3 separate regions of the Homo sapiens genome follow, and all the other regions are reported to be linked to region 1. The links are microRNA targets in miRTarBase. Many come from high-throughput screens and were not tested one by one. Region 1 holds a microRNA gene; each other region holds the end of a gene's coding sequence.
The links. Region 1 holds the annotated microRNA hsa-miR-885-3p (AGGCAGCGGGGUGUAGUGGAUA, at 2,211-2,232, opposite strand). A microRNA usually pairs through its seed, bases 2 to 8, with sites in the 3' UTR of a target mRNA and lowers its output. Matches are read on the target gene's strand: a 7mer-m8 pairs with bases 2 to 8, a 7mer-A1 pairs with bases 2 to 7 and ends in A, and an 8mer does both.

Region 1 (4,183 bases):
ATCATCTTTATGTTTTGCAGAGGGTCACATTCATCCCAGCTGTGCCCCCTCCTGCCACACCTCACTGGGCTGTGCCCTGTCCTCTCCCAGGCCCTCCTGCCAGGGGAAGACTCCAAAGGACTGGGGCATTCCCTAGACCGTTCCCCTTCAGCTCCACGAGTCCCCTGCAGAGGGCAATGCTTAACACCATGGCAGAAGCAATTAATGGCAGAGCAACAGACATCCAAGTCAAAGCGCAGTGGGCTAAACCTCTCAAAGGACGACCACAGGGGCAGAGGTGGGAACCTCTTGGGGATGGAGGCCCTGATAGGGCCTTGTGGGACCTCACTGTCCACAGTCCCTTGGGCAGCACTCTGTAGCCCCCACCTCCTCTAACTGCCCACAGAGCCCTTCAGAATACAAGCACGGGGAGGGGTAGAGAGAGAGCCCTGGACCCAGAAGAGGGCACCTGGGACATGGTGTCTAATTCTGATTGCTATGTGACCTTGGGGCCAGCCCCTCTCCTCTCTGGACCTCAGTTTTGTCATCTGTAGAGTGGGGAGGGAGCTGGCTTAGGCCCCATATCTCAGCAATAGTGTCTTGACACTGTCTAAGGGAGACCAGCCTAGGGCATGTCCTGGGTAGGGTGGACAGCTACATCTCGGGAAGAAGAGGGTGTGGAGAGGCCGGCAGAGGCCCGTGTGGACAGAATGACCAGATGGCGCCCCCCTTCCCCAGCTCCACAGTCCTTCACTTGACGGACAGACATGGTGGGGTGTCAACTCCATGCCAGGCTCTCGGGTCTGAGAGAGGTCCCCCTGTGGTCCCTGCCCTCCAGGAGCTCACAGTCTAGCTGGGGTCAAGGAGAGCAGATAGGCACACAGATCCAGAGCAATGCAAGACAAAACCAAGCCAAGGACATGGCGGGCCGGAAGGGACACAGCCAGGCAAAGGTGGGAGGTGGTCCAGTGTGATGGTAGCGGGCGGGCCGGGCCAAAGCTCAGCGCCCACGAAGGGAGAAGGTGCCTGAGTGGAGGGTGACAGAGTGGAGTCTTTGCTTGGTGTTCAATAGGAAGCCGCTGAGAGTATTTTTGGGTGGAGGGGGAGGAAGGAAGAGAATATCTTTTGAGCATTCATGATGTGCCAAGTTCCATCTGAGCCACTTTTCGCTCAGCTGTCACAGTCTGTGAGGTGGTCAGCCTCACCCCATTTCACAGATAGGGCATCAGCTCAGGGGGTCACCTCTGCATTCAGCCCAGGAAGGCAGAGCTGGGATGGGAGCTGGTCTGTGGCTCCAATCTTGTGCTTTTTCCACCTTGTGGACAAAGTTGGTGGGAGAGCTGTCTGGGGCAGCCCCAAGGAGAGAAAGGGGGGCCAGAGCGTGGTGGGGAGCTGCCAGCTATCCCATGAGTGGGAGGAAATGGGAGCCCAGGCTCAGGGAACACTGTGGTTTCCGTGGATGGTACTGTCTGTCCTGTCCTGCCCAAGCTTCTGTCCTGTCCTGGTCCTGTGGAGGGGATGTTCCTTGGTCTCTGACCTGGCAGCAGAGAGTGGCCAGGACCTTCCCAGCTGCAGGCTCAAAGCCCATCCTGGCCTTGGGCCTGTCCTGAACAGCAGGAGGTGGCTTTCCCTTGCCCTGAGCTGGTCTAGATGGTGGCAGTCTCGGAGTCAAAGCCTTCTGCTGTGGCTTGTGGGGTATGCTGAGCCATAGGTAGCAGAACTGGGAAGCCTCCTTTTACAAAATGGGGTTTCTGAGCCCAGATAAGGCGAATGACTGAAGTTGCAGAGGGTGTAGGACAGTAGGGGCTGGACCTAGGGTTCCTTGATCTCTTGCGTGTGACCTTTTAGGCCTCTCCCTGGATAGGGAGAGGGGAGAGTTCATCTCTTCTAAAAGGGTTCCTTCAGTGGGGAGAGGCTGTGAAGAAGGGATGGAGGCTATTTCTGGGGGCTATTATCTGCCTCCAGGCACAAGCACTAAACAAAGCCAAAACGATTCCCAGCCCAGACACAGTCCTTCCATTATTATTGTTATTAATGCAGTTAATAACACACGCTCACAGAGCACGAGGCAGTAGGCAAAGTGTCCCCCTCACAACAGCCCCCTGAGGTAGGTTTTGGCGCAAGTTCAATCCCCAGCCCCTCCACCCACCACTTTCTGGCTCAGAGAGCTTGAGTGATGGCCCAGGGTCACACAGCTGTGAGTGGTGGAGCCGGGACTTGAACCCGTGCTCTATCCACTACACCCCGCTGCCTCTCATGGAGAAGAGGCAGGGTAGTGTAATGGAGAGAGTGCGGGCCGAGTAGCAGACTGGGCCTTCTGCAGTCACGGTGTCGTCCTAGGCTCCCTGGAGACGGTGGCAGTGGTGGCAGGTCCGGCTCTCCCATGCCTGGCCTTCTGCTTGGTGGGGTGGGCAGCAGGTCCTGGGATGTGGGCAGAGTCCCAAGAGGGTTTACCGATGTCCTGCATGACCTCATGCTGTTAGTGCTCTGGCTGGCAGGGGGAAGGGAGGAGGGTGTGTCGGGGTCTCGCGGGGGTTGAGCCATCGGGCCTGCTGGAGCCAGGCCTTGCTGTTTTTTGAAGACAGCCCCGCCATCCTGGCCCCCTGGCTCCAGCCCCTTCCACTGCCACATTGATGGCATCTAGTCTAGTCCTGCATTTCCCAGTGGAAGTTACTACAAGGAGGCAGGCTCCTGCATGGGGGCTACAGGAAGAGCCCAGAGCTGGGGTCTGGCTTCCGCCCTGCCCCTGCCCTCTGTGGGGCCTTACACTTCTGCTCTGGGTCTCAGTTTCCCCAGCTGCAAATTGGGATAGGACCAGGGTCCTCTAGGGATCATTGAATCCCCTGAAATGTTGCAAGATGAGGAGTCTGGGCATCTGTTCCTTATAAGAGGGGTCACTGCTTTAGTGGAACTCTCACGGAAGTTCATGACCTAGGAGGGTTTAAAAAACACTGGCTTTCCATGAAGACAATGAAAAGATGAGGCGCTGCTCCATGCAGGAGACCAAAGAGGCAGGACATCCAAGTGGCATGCAGGACCCCACATGGATCCTGGCCTGGAGAACGCTGCAGGCACAATTGGCAGAATGTGAATATGGATGGCACAGCAGGTAACAGTACCGAATCAATGTCAAGTTTCCTGAATTGATGGCTGTGTTGTGGTTATGCATGAGAATACCCTTGCTCTTGGGAGACACACCTGCAGTGTCTAGCGGGAGAAGGCCATCACATCTGCATGATGAGGAGGAGAGTGAGATTTGTCAGAGAGCAAAGACGGCAAAAGGTTAGCAACAGCCGAATCAGAGTGAAGGGCATGCCCGTATTCTTTGTGCCATCCTTGCAACTTTTCTGAAAGTTTGAAATTATCTTAAAATACAAAGCTAAAAAATAGGCCTAGGTCAGAGTTTGCACTCTAGGTCCCACCCATATGTGGCTTGACCCATAGGGACCTTAAAATGTGGGAATTTCTTGCCAATACTTAAACATTGAGAGCTGGTACAGGGAAATCTGGATTTCTGGCTCCTCTTGCAAAGTGAGCACTGAGGTCAGATTGGGCTGGCGCTTCTGCAGGCAGCAACAGGAAGCAGCTGTGGTTTGGGTTTGGCACCTGTGCTCTCCCTACCTGGCCCTGCAGACATATGAGTTTGCAATTTCTGAATATTTTTACTCTGTCCCGTTTGAAGATACACCAGACATGGGCTCGTGTCTGCCTGTCCGTCCCTGGAGGGTAGGAAGGTAGGGGAAACCTGCCTGGTTTTGATGATTTCCTTGGTGCCCTGAGTGTTGAGGTCATTTGAGTCTTTCTGAAGGCTGGTCTGCCCTCACTTGTCAGATGGGGAAACTGAGGTTCTGAGGGGCAGAGGCCACAGTGGGAGCTGTTGGAGGGCTGGAACCTGGGCATTCTGCCTCCAGATGCCACATTCCTTCCACACCATACAGCACCTCACAACCGCAGGGTTTGTTTGCAAAGGACAGTCACACGTGTGCATGCCTGTGGTCCCCACAACAGCCCTGTGGGGCAGGCAGTGGAGGCCTCACCAGCTTCCCCATTGCACTGACACAGACACAGAGGCTCAGAGAGGTGAAGGGACCTGTCCAGGGTCACAGGCCAAGCATGGTTGGACCAACTGACCAGAGCGGAGTGTTTCCTGCCCTCTTCTAAGCTGAAACAGTGCATGAGATGACACTAGGGCTTTCTCAACCAC
Region 2 (4,183 bases), not on the chromosome of region 1:
TCCAGGAGGGTCCACACTGGTGGCACCTGCAGACACACACTGGGGCATTCCTCCCCAGCTCATCAGAGACCCCAGAGCTTCTAGAACTTTCCAGTCAGACCAGCCTGCCCAACCCCAGGTAGTGAATAACTGGAGGAATCTGAGATTGGGCCTCTGAGCTCGGCCACTACAAGGCCTGGAACTATAAGTGATCCCTTCTATTCTTTTGCCTCAGTCTCCTCTTTTGTAAGCTGAGGATAAGAATGCCTGCCCAGCTTACTCCCATTCCCGGGCCTGAAATCTACCCACCCCACCGCCCATGAACATCACCATGACATGAAACAGCCAGCCAGGGGAACTGCCTCTGAAAAGCCCCAGAGAATTCCTGAAGCCTGATGATGGTGGGGGACCTGTGGCCATCTGGACTATGGTGACAGCTGGAGTACCACAACAGGGGACTGGGCGTCACCAAGACTTCACCTCTTGGCAGCTTGGCTTAGAGAGGCTGTCACCCCTTCTATCCTTCGCAGCTCCAGTACCTGAATCGCTACTACCAGACCATCCGGGAGAAGGTGGGTCCAGAGCTGCAGAGGCGCCAGCTACTAGAGGAGTTCGAGTGGCTTCAACAGCACACAGAGCCCCTGGCCGCCAGGGCCCCAGACACCGCCTCCTGGGCCTCTGTGTTAGTGGTCTCCACCCTTGCCATCCTTGGCTGGAGTGTCTAGAGGCTCCAGACTCTCCTGTTAACCCTCCATCTAGATGGGGGGCTCCCTTGCTTAGCTCCCCTCACCCTGCACTGAACATACCCCAAGAGCCCCTGCTGGCCCATTGCCTAGAAACCTTTGCATTCATCCTCCTTCTCCAAGACCTATGGAGAAGGTCCCAGGCCCCAGGAACACAGGGCTTCTTGGCCCCAGATGGCACCTCCCTGCACCCCGGGGTTGTATACCACACCCTGGGCCCCTAATCCCAGGCCCCGAGATAGGAAAGCCAGCTAGTCTCTTCTCTTCTGTGATCTCAGTAGGCCTAACCTATAACCTAGCACAGACTGCTACAGCTGCTCCCCTCCCGCCAAACAAAACCCCAAGAGAGCAATGCCCCTACCACCCAAGGGTGCCATGGTCCCGGGAGAGCCCAAACCTATCACCACCTGTTGGGCATAGCCAGAGCTGTTCCCACCCAGCCAGGGCATGAAACATCAACCCCCCACATGTGAACCCATCATTCCTAAACCCTGGGTAGGCTCCATGCCAAGTAACAGCAGAGGGAGTTAAGCCATAGGAATTTGGCTGTGGAGTAAGAGGGAATGCGGTGAGGCACTCTGGAATATGACCCTACCAGAGGTTGGAGAACAAACTTGGGCAGCCGGAACCCGTCACTATTCTAGACTTCCCTGGCATTCGAGGAGCCCTTTGAACTTTCCAAAGTGCAGCCACAGCTACAATGCTGTTAAATCCTCCCACATTCTTGGATGCCCCTTCACCTTGTGTGGACAGTGTCTGGTTTCTCCATTTTACAGACAGGAAAACTGAGCTTCAGACAGGGGGTGGGCTTTGCCTAAGGACACACAAATTTGGTTGGGAGTTGATGGGGCCAGATGAGCCAGCATTCCAGCTCTTTCACCCTTCAGCAACATGCAGAGTCCCTGAGCCCACCTCCCAGCCCTCTCCTCATTCTCTGAACCCACTGTGGTGAGAAGAATTTGCTCCGGCCAAATTGGCCGTTAGCCACCTGGGTCCACATCCTGCTAAGACGTTTAAAACAGCCTAACAAAGACACTTGCCTCTGGGTTTTGCATTGTGTCTGCTGTGTTGCCGGAGACTGCTGTCACCTGTGGCTTTTGTGGTGGGGGAGGAAGAAGAGAGGGTGAGGTGGGGGTGGGGACATGAGGCTCCTAGAAGCTCAGTGGGGGAGCACGTGGGCTTGAGAGTATGTGTGTGAGCATGCATATGAATATGTGTGCGCATGTGCACAGATGCACGTGCACACCACGCCCAACCAGCCAACCTCCAGCCTGTCTAAAAAGGTATTGTAACCTTGTGGAAGGGACAGAAAGGAGCCCTACACTGGGGAACTTGTCAAATGTAATCCAGAAAAGTTGGGGCTGGCACCTTTGCCAAGCAGCGCACAGTTGGTGGAAGGAAAGAACCAAGGTGCAGGGTGCCAGGCAAAGGCACCAGGCAGAGAAGTCTCCTGGCCTGAAACCATCAGGCCTAGTCTGCTGAGTGTGAGGGTGACCTGTGATGGTTACCATCACCAGTGCTTGCATCCAGAGGCTCCAGCCCTGACCAAGCCTTACTGAGTATCCAAAGATGGGCCTCTGTTTGCTAAATAATTTGCTCCCTCACCTGCTCACCCCACAAAGACAGGTACTACTAATAAAATTAAAGTCATCATCACCCTCATCATCATCACCATCATCATCATCATGGCTGCCATTTACTGAGTGTTTATGTGCCACCGTGCAAGAAGCTTTACATGCATTTTCTCATTTAATCCTCACAACCTCTGAGAAGGCCCTTTTCTTATTCCCATTTTACAAGTGCAGGAACTCAGTGAGGCCCATAGAGATTTATCAAGTGACTCAAAGTCACTTTTTTCATTGGGTAAATGAAAAAAAGCCAGATTTAAACCAGTCAGAGGACTCTAGAATCCACTCTCAAGAAAGGGCAAGTCCTGGCCGGGTGTGGTGGCTCACCCCTGTAATCACAGCACTTTGGGAGGCCGAGGTGGGAGGATCACATGAGGCCAGGATTTCAAGAGCAGCCTGGGCAACATGGTGAAACCCCATCTCTACTGAAAATACAAAAATTAGCTGGGTGTGGTGGCGCACACCTATAGTCCCAGCTACTCGGGAGGCTGATGCAGGAGAATCGTTTGAACCCAGGAGGCGGAGGTTGCAGTGAGCTGAGATCGTGCCACTGCACTCCAGCCTGGGCAACAGAGCGAGACTCCATCTCAAAAAATAATAATAATAATAAAATAAAGAAAAATAAAGGGCAAGTGGTATGGCTTTCATCATTTTACTGACAAGAAAACTGAGGCTCAAGCAGGAGAAGCAGATCCACACCATAGTGCCTCCCCAGACCCTGCCAGACCTTTGCCTTTGCACCCTGACACTTGCTCCTGGGGTTCTGGCAGGTCATGGGTGGCAAGACCAGGCACCTGACCAACACCCTCACACAGGCCTTTCGGACCGAGGCAGCTCGTGCTTTTTTCCTCAGTGCGAGACCCAGGACTCCACCTCATCTCTGAATCCCCTTAACTGCCCCTTCCAGCCTACCATTCTGGGAGGAAGAACCCAGCCCTGGAACGTGGCTGGAACGAGGGCTCACAGTCACCCCAGCTCTTCCCTCCCCTGGGACCCAGATGGCCAGACTTGACCATTCCTGCTTTAAGGGATTAACTCTGGGTCAGGCAGGGAAACAGGGCACATACACCAGGGCTGATACACAGGGACTCTTGTGACATCGTTAGGAATGAAAGATTGTTAGGAACTGTCCCCTTGGGCTCTAGTACTTTGTTTTAATGTTGGAGGATGGGGCTTAGCAAACCTCTCCTCGCCTGCTGATTGCCTGGGGAGCCGGCCATGTGGAAAAGCCCCTTTTCCTAGGAGTTAAGATTCTGGGGTTTGAGTCCCATTTGTGCCAGCTGTGTGGCCTTGGGCAAGTCACTTCTCCCTGGTCTTCAGTTATCCTTTCTGGAATCTCCCATGCTGCCTTCTTGGTGAGGTTACAGCGAGAGGCTCATGAGACCCGGATGTGGCAGCACTCTAAACCAGGAAGCCACACAGACAAGAAATGATATTGCTGTTATTTGCCCAGCACAAGTTCAATTCAGCTTCACCTTTGCAGGTAGGTAAGAAAAAGGTCTGGAACCCAAGTTTTATATATAAATAGCCAAAATTAGAAAGGCTCTAGAGCAAACATCTAATTTACGTCTTTCCAACTATGCTCCCGGGAGCCTGAGATGCCTCAGAAACACCACAGGGGCTGTCGAGGAAAACAGAGCTGCTGCACGAAGTAGCCCTGACGGGCTTCCCGTAAAATTGTACTTGAAGTAGTTGCAGGGCCAGCTTCACGGGTGTAGGACCTGTGCAGTCCCTCAAGACTTTGTGCTTACAAGGGCCCCATGCTTGGTTTAATGCTCGCCTGTCACTGTCTCAAAATTCTTGATAATTTTTAAGCAAGAGGCACCGGGCATT
Region 3 (4,183 bases), not on the chromosome of region 1:
GCCCAGTCAGCAAGTCTAGAATCTAGAACAGCAGGGGGTGGTTCTTGGGGGATGGGGGTGAGCCCAGAGTGGTGGTGGCATGGGGCTGCTCTTGGAGTTGAGAGAGGCAAGGACTGAGAGACATGATAGAGGCTGCTAGAGAAGTGGCAACTCTCAGACACAAATTTGTGAAAAACAGCCAGAAAAGGCGCCACACCCCAGGAAGAAAAATGCACTCCAAAGACACATGAATGCCAAGATATACACAAACACATACTGTCAGACACATTCACAGAAACGACCTAGATACACATGCAGCCAGAGACTGACATACACTTTCAGGCAAGCACACTGTCAGAAAAATAGTTATGTCCTAGAATGACACCCAGAGATACACTGTTACAGAAAGGCACTCACGCAGACCTACATTTGCCATGTGATGACACAGAAATGTCCCGTCACACTGGCAGAACTTGTCACAAACACACTGTCACCATCAGATATGCACTGTCACAGCAAGACTTGTACTGTCCCAGAAATGAGAGACGCAGAGTCTGTCACAGGAAGATGCACAGATGCTCCAGGGACACACATGCACTGCTCTGAAGGCAGACATGTACTGATGTGATAGAATCACATTTTGTGGCAGTGTCACAAAAACAGACATGGATAGACCTGTTCAGACACAGACATACATACACCATGACACATGCAGTTTATCAATGGAACAAACTGTCCAGAAATAGCTACCCAGAATCTGTTGCAGGAACACAAACGGACATCCACCCCATCAGACAGAAACCACAGATGCACTGTCACAGACAGACCCACGCAGGCATGCACGCATCTTGGATTTAGACACAAACTGTCAGAGATAAGAGTCCCACACTCAGTCACCATCTGACACACCTGGAAACAAGCCCTTCATCACACACACAACTGGGGACACTCTGTGAGCTGCACATGAAGACTTGGACTCACCACAGTCACACACACACAGACAACACCAAAAAAGCACACATGTACTCTCCTTTGTTCACCCAACGTTATTGGGGGTGGTTTGCTATAAGCCTGCCAGGCCTTGATGGGGATGTTGGTATCAGAGATGTACAGATAAGTCAGGCATCAAACCCGTGCCATGAAGTTTATCTGTAGTACAGCTACTGGGGAGATTTTTAGATAGAAGTGAGAATGTGAATGGGCTTCTCAGCAGGTGACCCTCTGTCTTGAAAGACAAAGAAGGTTGGTGGCTCAGGACAGGGGAGGGCAAATTGCAGGCAAAGGCCAAGAACACTGGACAGAGCGGCGAGAGATTGGCAGGGGCCAAATGGTGCAGAAACTTCTACAAAAAGAATACTACTAACATTTGTGCTCTCTCAATGTGCCAAGCACTGTGCCCAGGTAGTACGTTACTTTGATCATACATATTCCCTCTAGATGATCACAGCAGAAGCATGAGGGAGTAGATATCACTTTTTTTTTTTTTTTTTAAGACTGAGTCTCGCTCTGTCACCCAGGCTGGAGTGTGGTGGCGCAATCTCGGCTCACTGCAACCTCCACCTCCTGGGTTCAAGCGATTCTCATGCCTCAGCCACCCAAGTAGCTGGGATTACAGGCACGTACAACCATGAACGGCTAATTTTTGTATTTTTAGTAGAGATGGGGTTTCTCCATGTTGGCCAGGCTGGTCTCGAACTCCTGATCTCAGGTGATTCACCCACCTCAGCCTTCCAAAGTGCTGGGATTATAGGTGTGAGTCACTGCACCCAGCCTAATCACCTCTTGTACAGATGAGACACTTGAAACAGAGAAGCAATTGACCAGGGCCAGGAAGGTTTCAAAGCAACTCTACAACAAATAGATGCTTGGCCACTGGGTTCCAGACACACTCCGCAGACAGCCACTCAGCTAGCCATGCCCTCAACTGCAGAACCAGACACACATCCTGTCAGAGGGTCTCCATTATCATGGCATGGTGAAAAAGCTGCTTGAGAAAACCTGGGGGCCAGCCAGCCTTCTTTACCTTGGATTTACCCCTAGGGAGGACAGGCAAAGAGGTGTCAGACTGGGGGACAAGAACAAAAAAGGGTTTAGCCGTCCTTCACCTTCTAAAACCTAGTGGGTGAGGCCCCTCTGGTTACTTCCACTAAACTCATGTTGCTACAAAGTATCAGTTGCACTTTTCCAAGGCTTTTCTTCATCAGATCATGATAAGGAAAGAGCAGCATTCATGGTGAGAGGCAGGCGGAGAAGCTGGAATTCAGGCAGGAAGTTCAAGCTCACAGTCCTCTGCTACCATCACCCCCCCCCCCCCAGGAAATAGGGTAGGCAGGGGTGGGGTCAGCAGGCAAAGACGCAGCTTTTCCAGTGGCAATAGGTCCAGAAGGAGGTTTAATAAGCAGCAAATCAAATACAAACTCCAGGCCCCCAGACAGACCCTGCTGGAGAGCATTCACACCTCTGAGGTCAAGCCAAGGTCCGTGCCATTGCATCCTCTGCCCAGAGGCCCGCCCAACCCCTGCCCCACACAGAACAGAGTCGCTCAGGGAAACTGACATTTGGTTTTATTGTGCCAAGGACATTACAGATGGCGGATCTTGTCAACACCTGCAGGGCACGGGTGCCCCATCTGCCAAGGCTGCTCCCACACTCCCTACACTCAAATCCCGGGTGGCAGCCATAATCCCCAAAGATGACCCCCACCCCAAGATTCCAAAGAAGCTAGTGGTGGTGGAAGCAAAAGGAATGCAGCAAGGTCAGGGTTTCATTGTCCAAGCCGGCCTGACACCTGCCGCCCTGCCCTTGCCCAGTGCACACCCTAGACCCTGGGCCGGCCTCCATGCAGCTGGAGGCCAGAAGACAGCAACCCATATCTTTGCACCCTCCTCCATGCCCCATGGCCTGCCTGCCCAGAAAGATGCCACCTTCACAGAGCCAGTGCTGTCGTCTATATCATTTTTGATTAGTTGATTTTATAAGATAAAAGTAATTTTAATAAAGAAAAAATTCAACATTGAAGGCTCAGACGTTCTTGGGGGTACTGGGAAGGGAAATTTCCCACTTCTTCCTCCCACCTCCCTGGCATCAGTGTCGGGGGGTGGCGGCAAGTTTTTCTCATCTTGGAAGGAATGAGGGGCAGGGAGACTTTCCTCTGTCTGAATGTCTCTCTCCTCTGGGGCTGCCTGGCTGCCAGTTGGTCTGTCTCTGTGTGCCTCTTGTCTATCTTCGGCACCCTTGCCCGAGTCCCCTGTGGAATGCAGGGATGGTTCTGTGCGGGATGGGGTGGGGGGCAACAGGGCACATCAGCTGGCAGAGAGACAGGTGATAGTGGCAGCGGCAATGAGAGAGAGTGCAGGGGTGGGCTAGCCAGAGGGAAGTGAGGAGGAGGGAAAAGAGGGGAGAGCAGAAAGAACAGAAGGAGGCAAGAGGGAAGAAGCCAAAGAAGGTGAGGTGGCACCGGAGAGCAGGAGTACTGGGGTTGGGAGATGGTGTCCAATCCCTGGGTCTCCATCAACTCTTGTCTGGGGGCGGGTCTCTGTGCACTTTGTTTTTCTTCATACTGTCTAGGTATTCCTGTTGGGACACTGCCAGCACCGAAGCTAGGATCTCATCATCATCCCAGTCATTCAGACCTGCTGGGCGAGAGGAAGAGGAAAAGGATGATGGAGCGCTCTCAGCCTGCCTTCTCCTCACCCTGTGCCGACATCTGGGGCTCTGGAGAAATCCCATAGGGCCCTTCTCACTCCTTTCTCAAAACAGAAGGATCTGCTAGGCCTGTGAAACCCCACTTAGACCCCAGACCCTTCTGGGGCAAATTCCTTGGATCTGAAAAATCCCCTCCAGTGCCTCTCCCTTCTTTTCTTGGGGAGATGGCCAGAGGCTCCAGAAAGCCCCTCTCAGGACTTGCCACTTCTTCCAGTCTCTCCCAGCTCCTAGCAGCCTCCATCCCCCCAGACAAAGGAGGCTTACCAAAGGCAGAGGGGGACATCTGCTGAATGAGGGCCCGGCACTCCAAAGCAGGGTAGAGGGACACAAGGGGGGAAGTTGCCCGGTCGGCCCCTGCCGAGAACTGACTGCTTGTACCTGAAGCAGACGGACAGTCAAAGGTAGGGACCCAGGATCCAGGACCCAGGACCCAGGACGTGCCTCCTAACTCCCAGCACATTCCCTGTGGGCAAGTCACTGACCTGGCGCACAGGGCGAA

Region 2: the mRNA of XPNPEP2 is a reported target of hsa-miR-885-3p. The part of its 3' UTR that is shown has no 7-base or 8-base seed match.
Region 3: miRTarBase lists OTUD5 as a target of hsa-miR-885-3p. Seed matches in the 3' UTR shown: 8mer at 3,308-3,315 and 7mer-A1 at 2,651-2,657.

What each region holds. Positions count from the first base shown.
Region 1 is chr3:10,392,289-10,396,471 of GRCh38, forward strand. It overlaps MIR885 (microRNA 885), which reads right to left and starts at 2,274; the gene lies at 2,201-2,274. All of the region lies in intron 5 of ATP2B2 (ATPase plasma membrane Ca2+ transporting 2), which reads right to left. RefSeq lists an enhancer at 2,809-3,405.
Region 2 is chrX:129,767,782-129,771,964 of GRCh38, forward strand. It overlaps XPNPEP2 (X-prolyl aminopeptidase 2), which reads left to right. Exons shown (of 21, transcript NM_003399.6): 21 at 510-1,755. The coding sequence ends at 704. Among named protein-coding and RNA genes, the nearest start is that of SASH3, 10 kb to the right of the region's middle. RefSeq lists an enhancer at 624-1,124.
Region 3 is chrX:48,919,685-48,923,867 of GRCh38, forward strand. OTUD5 (OTU deubiquitinase 5) reads right to left here. Exons shown (of 9, transcript NM_001136157.2): 7 at 4,167-4,183; 8 at 3,949-4,062; 9 at 2,340-3,611. The coding sequence ends at 3,490. Among named protein-coding and RNA genes, the nearest start is that of PIM2, 2.8 kb to the left of the region's middle. RefSeq lists enhancers at 637-696, 1,390-2,274, 3,819-4,183.